2 linked regions of the Homo sapiens genome follow. The protein of the gene in region 2 interacts with the protein of the main gene of each other region in a pairwise test. Each region holds a gene or a part of one and is shown on either strand. Other genes may lie near its edges.

Region 1 (3,787 bases), about 29 Mb from region 2:
ATAAGACCACTTTTACTATTTTTGCTCCATGGACCTCATATTTTGACATATGTCTGAATACCTGATCAGCATGACATAGCCAGCTAACTTTAGGAAGACCTGGTAAGATCCCAGTGGAAAAAGCAAAAGTATTTTCATTCCTAGTCTGGGCTCGTTACAGTTAAATGTATCTTTAGGCTTTTTGAAATATTAGACATAGCTGGCTTTTGAGGACCACTGGAATTCACTGCTTGGATTGTCCTTACAAAATTAAATACTCCACATGTCTGAACAAAATGTATCTAGATGTTTTTATGACTTTATTGAAAGCAGAATAGATAACATAGAGTTGGAGAAATGTTAAAAAATTATTGGTGTTTTCCTGATATTTGACTTAGAGGTTTCTGCTGGCATCATATAGTTGGAAACAACAAAACAGGTGAACTGAAAGCCTTTCACTATCAAAATACTGAATTTAATTTTATGGTCATTTTGGGTGATACAGATCATGCTGTTGTATGTCATTCGTAGAGGTATAATACCATTTTTTTTTTTTTGAGACGGAGTTTCACTCTTGTTGCCCAGGCTGGAGTGCAATGGCGCGATCTCGGCTCTCTGCAACCTCTGCCTCCCGGGTTTAAGCAATTCTTCTGCCTCAGCCTCCCGAGTAGCTGGGATTACAGGCATGTGCCACCATGCTCGGCTAATTTTGTATTTTTAGTAGAGATGGGGTTTCTCCATGTTGGTCAGGCTGGTCTTAAACTCCCGACCTCAGGTGATCCGCCCACCTCGGCCTCCCAAAGTGCTGGGATTACAGGCGTGAGCCACCATGCTCGGCCATAACCCCATTATTTCTTCAGATTCATTCAGAGAGTTAGAAAGAATTAAGGCATTTTTTACAAAATGATGAGAGTTACAGAGAAGCTGAGGAAAAATAGCTTTTTAAAAAAGCAAACAGAATGAAGCAGTACATAATGGGAAAAAAATTGAGCATATCTGTGTAGAAGTTTAGAAAAATAAGGTTTTTCTCAAGATTTGTTAATTCTGTAGAAGGTTGGCTCTGGAACAAATTCGTACAGTCATCTTAATTGTTTTACTTTTTACTGAGTAACACTGCTATTGAAAAAAACATTCTGAAGTGAGGGTTTGATTTATATATGTCTTTGAATACCTTCCACGGTGACAATCACATAAACTCTTTTAAAAAAGACTTGTATTTATTAAATATTGACTATTTTAAATAATATTACAAAATATAAGTAAGATATGGAGAATAATGGTACAGCGAACACCCGTCTCCTCATCACTCAGTTTAAGAAAAATAATATTACGATTGCCTTTAAAAACCCCGGGCACTCCTTCCCAATCTTGTCTCATTCCCAACCCCCACGCAGTGAAAAGCCCTGAATTGGGGGTTTATCATTCATTCACTTCTTCACTTTATAGTTTCCTATCTCCTAAAAATCACTTTTAAAATCTTCATATGTTTTTGAAAATCCTGTATACCGTAAGTTCTAGAGGTGTGTGTGTGTGTATATGTATATATGTATATAGAGAGAGATATATATGTTTTTTGTGTGTGTGGGAAGGAAAGGGTGGAAGTAATGGAAGAAATTATGCATTTAAACTTGATAGTTAACACCTTCTCTTGTTTCAGAACTTAAAATATTTTTTACATGTTTAAAGTAATTTAATTGGTGGCAATATTTTAATTCTAAAATTAAATTGGGATTTACTGAATTGGAAACCTAGGTTTTGTTATTTTGTAAATCCTGGGAAGAGTATCAGAGTTGAAATCCCTTCAATTTAACGTCCCTATAAAAAAGAAATCCAGAACCTACTGCCTAAGACCTCGGTGCTTCTCCAGTGTTGTAATTGAGTAATTTTAGTAAGATTTAAAATAGTCCACTTAAATTTTTGTAAAGATATCTTTGAGTTTTGAGGATCTAGACTATAGGAGAATGTGTGTACACATTAACCTCTTAATGTATGTACACATTAAACTCTTCCTACCTTTTCCTCATTTTGATCATACTTATTAATTAATTTGTATGGATTCAGTAGTCTCTTGGGAGGCCTTGAGAACAAATGGGAAGGAATGGCCTTCTTTTTTAGCCAAGACGTTGATCCTTCTCTAAGAATGAACTGATTTTATCTTATTAAGGTTTTCTTGTGTTGGTCTTCCCAGAGATGCTTGGTTTCCCCTTTATTGGTTTGTTGTTTTAATTTTCGTTGTTTCACTTGTAAATTTTGAGCTGTCTCAGAGGCTTTATTTTGGTGATTGTTCCTGGTTAGTTGCTTTTTACTTATGTGCTGGATGTAATTTGTTTAGAGAATTGAGCTGTATCTTGTTCTTCTCTACTCTTCTGAACGCCACCCCCATCAAATCTCAAAACATACAAAAACACCCTAAACCTTTTGATTCTCTCAGAATCTGCCTCTGTGACTAGTCTCCCAATCTCTGTTAGGAAAAAAAAAAAGGTTTAAGTTGTTAAAGTTGTTAATGGATCATTGGTTTTGTGTTTTTCTCACCCTGTAAGGACTCTTACCTTTTAAAAGAGGAATTCTGGTGATAAAATGACTTAATCCACCTTGGCACCGTGGAGAGAACACTTCATGGTTTGTCTCTCTGGCCAAGGTCACATACTAGACATTAGATCAGCTGGAAATCCTCTCTGGGCTCCTGTCAGGTCATTTAGGAGATAGGGACAGTGCCGTGTCTGGGTGAAGGCAGCCTGTGCCTGCCTGCCTGGCTTCTCACTGCTCATGGGGCCTGTCGGCACTGACAGGCTCCCTCCAGTGCCTGAGCTAATCTGGATCTGGAAAGGAGGTTGATGGCAGCCCAGCCTCCCCATCTGGTGGGACTCAGCGTAAATCACGGTGGGAGTGACTCCTGGGCCACAGGACCCCCTCCCTGTTCCACTGTGTTGGCCCTGGCTGTGGGTCTGGGTGTCTGCCATGATTCTCTGCCTTTTGCCCCAGTCTTCCTTTAAGCTTGGGAGTGTTTTTGTTTTTCTCTCCTCCGTTGGTTTGATTCATGCTTTATGTATTCTTAGCCATGGCGAGAGTGAAGAACAGAGCTCTGGGAACACAGCTCGGTGCCTCCGGCATCAGCATTGGATGTCTCAACTCTTGAGCCTGTTGGAATGGCTGTCCCTAAGCTGACACTTGCTTCAACCTTCTCTGGGCTTGATCTTGTCCTCCCCATAGACTCTGTGCCCTGGACTCCCTGGCTGCTCTTACAACAGCAGTGCGCAGGACTGGCTAGTCCATTTCCCCTCTACCTGTGGGCTCAAGGGCTCTGCCTGCCCCTTGTGGCGCCAGCCTTGAGTGACAACACAGAACCACACCTGCCGCCCTCCTGAGATACATTCTAGCTCTGAGTTGCATACTTGGATGCATCTAAAGTCACTGAGCTCTTAATGGCAGATATTTTAGATATTGTGATGGGTTTATTAGAGAGGTTTCTAGCTTGGGATTCTTTTCATAGGTTCCTCCAATCATACCACGTAATTGACCTTGCTCTGCATGTAAGTTCAGTGTTGGTCTCAGTGTATCTAGCTTGCAGTCTATCCATGTGCTTCCACTGTGACTGAGTAGTGTTTGCCTAGTGGCGTCCTGTGTGCTAGAGTGAGAACAGTGGGTCAGTATCCATAGCAAGACCCTTCCCTCGGTAAAGGGAGAGTCTGCAGAGGGCCCAGGTTTCTGTGTATACCCAGCCCGATTTTCATATACTTCCTAAGGACCTACTGAATGCCAGGTACTGGGTATATAAAGACAAATGGAGGATCTCCAGATCAGTTGAGGG
Region 2 (3,787 bases):
AAAATACCTGAGCTTCATGACAATATAAAAAGAGTCTTAGTGATTTTATATGATTATGAGCTGAGAGTTAATGAGGAAATGCAGGAAAATCAAGAAGTGATATGAGAATCAGAAGAGTGTCACAGAGTCCAAAGATAATGAGCTTTGAGTTTGAAGGATGAAATTTTGCAGAGGTAACAAGAAGAATTCTGAGGAAGAATGTGAGATCTGGCAATTTTTGCTCTAGATATTCAGATTATTTTAATCATTGGGCATGCTTATTCGTTTTGTTTGGGTCTTTAACATTGAACTATTTTCCTTTCTTGCTTATTTTAGATTTTTTCTGGCCCTTCACTTACAGCGTACGATCTATTTTACATCTCTTTAGTACCTCTCATACCCAGTGAATCTGCTAATCTGAATTCACAGTGAATCTGCGAATCTGAATTCACTTGTATGCTGTAACAATAATAGGCTGTTGTGAGAATTAAATAAACAGTAACTGCAGTATAATAAACATTCAACAAAAATTATTTGAAAATTTTCAAACCTTACAGCTTTTGTGTGTTTTGTATCTATAAATGCCTGAAACCTTCTTTAGAACAAAGATGATAACTTTATTGTTTTAATGTTCTTCCATGAGCACTTAGGTCAGCATCATGATATATGGGTTAAAAGAGGTTTGAAGTCCTTGGTTTTCTGAAAGATCTTTGATTCTTAACTCAGAGGCTCCTACAATTATTGTGCTTATTAGATTAAGTACACACCATAAACACAGAACTTCAAAGGTAGAAGAGAAATACTGGATTCTCTTCATTCCTCTCAATAAGGGGTTAATGCAATTCTCTGCTTCCTTTCTCTATGTCTACCCTAAAAGGAGTGCCAGAACAAAGGCCTTATGAGTTGTCCCATTTTGCTGTTTAAATGATGTCTTCATCTCATCTGGAAGGAACAATCCTAATATTCAGCCAAGTCCATTGGAAGCAAGTTAAATGACCTCCAGCACTCCTCTCTTGATAATATTTGGGTGTCTTTTATGCTTCTCCATGAAAAGAAAATTTACTGCATGGCAAACCATGCCAGTGAATTATTCTCCTGAATAGACCCATTCTTTGTTTGAATACAAAGCAACCTTTTCATGTGTTTCCCAAATAATTACTCTGTTTGCCTTTACCTGAGTTTCCTCTAGTGTCATTTAATGGAACAAAATGTACTTTTTCCTAATAGAGGTTTTAGACTCTCCAGTATACCATTTCTCTATTACTGTTCATGCTCTGAGTTCCTTTTATCTAAATAATAAATCTACAATTTGTGGAAATTGTTCCCAAACTTTAAAGCTAGTTCTCTGTTCTCTTTGGCATAGAATTTAGATTTTATTTGCTCTCAAATAAGTTTTTCCAATGGGGAGATTTGGGTCTAAGAATATTTATTATAAATAAAGTAAAAACAGAAAGTCCTGTCTAGAAGTTAGAGTATGGCGTAAATATATTGTTCATCAGCCATTTCTTGTGGCTTTTAATTTAAGCCCTTAGGTTAAATGAAGGATATATTTACTCTGTAGTTCATAATACTATATTTGTGGAAATATTTTCACAGTATTGATGGTTTTAGATTTCTTTACAATGGCAAAGTAAAACTTTGAAAGAAGTTAGTGTCAACATCAGAGATAAAAGGTTAGTCAATTTCTAAATGGTTTTCAAGTTAAAATTTTTCTTTTTTCTTTTCTTTTTTTTTTATCTTAAAACTTCCCAGTGTGAAGTTAGAATTTTTAAAGAGGCAATGAAAACCACAGACAAAATCTTTTTTAAAGAAATGTACCAAGTATCCAGGAAATTACATGTTTCAGAGATTCATGCACCATTAGTTATCATCTTCAGCAAGAAAGAAAACGATTTACTCTGGTAACTGCCTTTTGCTGATAAGATCCAAGAAAGAAACCAGTTCCTGCCTTATGAACAGTCTTATTAGAATAAGACAAATGTTTACTGATTCTCAAAGAAATAAAAGGGACACTTTTGTGTAAAGTGTGTTATTGATTAGATCAGAGTATTGGGTGTCCAGAGAAATCTATTAAGCCTAGCTGCATCATGTGAAGCAGTCGTGCCACTGCTCATTATCAACTCTCTGATGCTAAGTATAACAGATTCCATGCTTCTCAGTCTACCTTCTGTGGTCATACCTGAAGGCTCTGTGAAGTTATGTTTCTGGCCTCCGAATGGAATTTTTTCAGTTCCATATTCTTTGAACATCATCAAAACTTTTTGGAAGAGGCGTTCAGAAGCTATTTTATGCAAATTGCTGCACTTTCAAGGAGACATGGAAGAGATTTAAATAAAATTGTTGTTTAAACACAGCCACGTTAAATAGATGTTCAAGAAGAATATTTTATCTATGATCAGAGAATTATGGAAAAAGAATCATCAGCCACGGAACTGAAAGGAGGGTACATGATTAATGCTTTTTAAAAAAAATACATAAATGCACTTATTTCATGAAAAGATATAAATTCACATATAGAAAATCTGAAAAAGAGAGAAAAGAAAAAAAATCACCATCAATTCTACACAATCATTGTTTTAATCTTGGTGTCTAGTTTTTCTTATTAACTAAAAGTTTATTTTTTAAATTAAATTATATTTGTTAAAATTATTGTAGTTTTACAAATGTAATTTTTAAATATATCACACATAGAAAGGTATATTTAATTTATAATGTGACAAAGCTCAAAGATATAATTATGGGGTAGCAAATGATAACTTATATGGTATTTGACCTTTTAATTTCAAAGTTTTTTGCATTCTATCCATTCATTTCTTTTCCATCATTATATGTACTGTTAAGTCTTTAGAATGTTTTGGCACATGGTGTGCATTACACCCAAGTTTATTGTGTGATTGTTGTTACTGTACTTAGTAATAGAAATAATTCAAATGTTATTCATTATAAGGGCATCTATCACTAAATCCTTTCATAGTGCCAAATAAAATACGTTTTAGAACAGTATGTTAAATGATACATATTATCTAGTAAAATGTAGAGGGAAGTGCAGGTGGTAGAAGTCATTTAAAACACCTGGATTCATGAAAACAAATCCACTTTTAATAGTCATTGGTTTTCCTGCAGGGACAGAAATACTGTTCTCTCTTTCAAAGGAATTCATTCCAAATTGAATTACCTTTCCTGACAACACTCCTTTCATCAGACTTCTTATAAACCTCTGCCTTCCCTTAAACAGGGTAAGAATTACCTGCCTTATGACCCTTTATTCTCAGGGCCATCCTAGTGAATCAATTTTATAAATTAACTTAAACAATGTTGTTACCCACCTAGGGAACTGTTCACAGTGGTCTTTTGGAAACTTGACCACAACTCACAGGAGGGGATGCAGTGGGAATTTGGTCCATGAAGGTTATCCTTTTGGCTTAGTGAAACCAGGAAGTGTTTCTCAATTAACTTCAAGTATGGACAAGTTCCCACAGCATCTGAGACTACCCCTTGGCATTATTATCCTCATGTGAAGTCCTTAATGCCTGCTGCATGTGATACTGTGATTTAAAGCAGCAAATTGTTTGAATGTCTACCATGTATCTCTTAATATCTTTCATGTTGTAAAATAAATTTTATATTGCTTGTAGGGTCATATTCTTTTGCAACCTCCTTCTAGCCCATGTTAATGTAATTTCTTTAATTAATAGATAGAATGCAAAAATTAATATAATTAATTACATTGAATTAATGTAGTTCTGGGTGTGGAACTGAATGGATAGAATGCAAAAAGTTAATTAATTAATTTAATTCATTACATTAA

What was found.
Region 1: the proteins of WIF1 (region 2) and CRADD interact in a two-hybrid assay, tested with the Homo sapiens proteins (one large-scale study listed by BioGRID and IntAct).

What each region holds. Positions count from the first base shown.
Region 1 is NC_000012.12:93,680,366-93,684,152, forward strand, and holds part of CRADD (death domain-containing protein CRADD), read left to right. Parts: intron 1-3,787. UniProt on the Homo sapiens protein: Adapter protein that associates with PIDD1 and the caspase CASP2 to form the PIDDosome, a complex that activates CASP2 and triggers apoptosis.
Region 2 is NC_000012.12:65,079,786-65,083,572, reverse strand, and holds part of WIF1 (wnt inhibitory factor 1 precursor), read left to right. Parts: intron 1-3,787. UniProt on the Homo sapiens protein: Binds to WNT proteins and inhibits their activities. May be involved in mesoderm segmentation.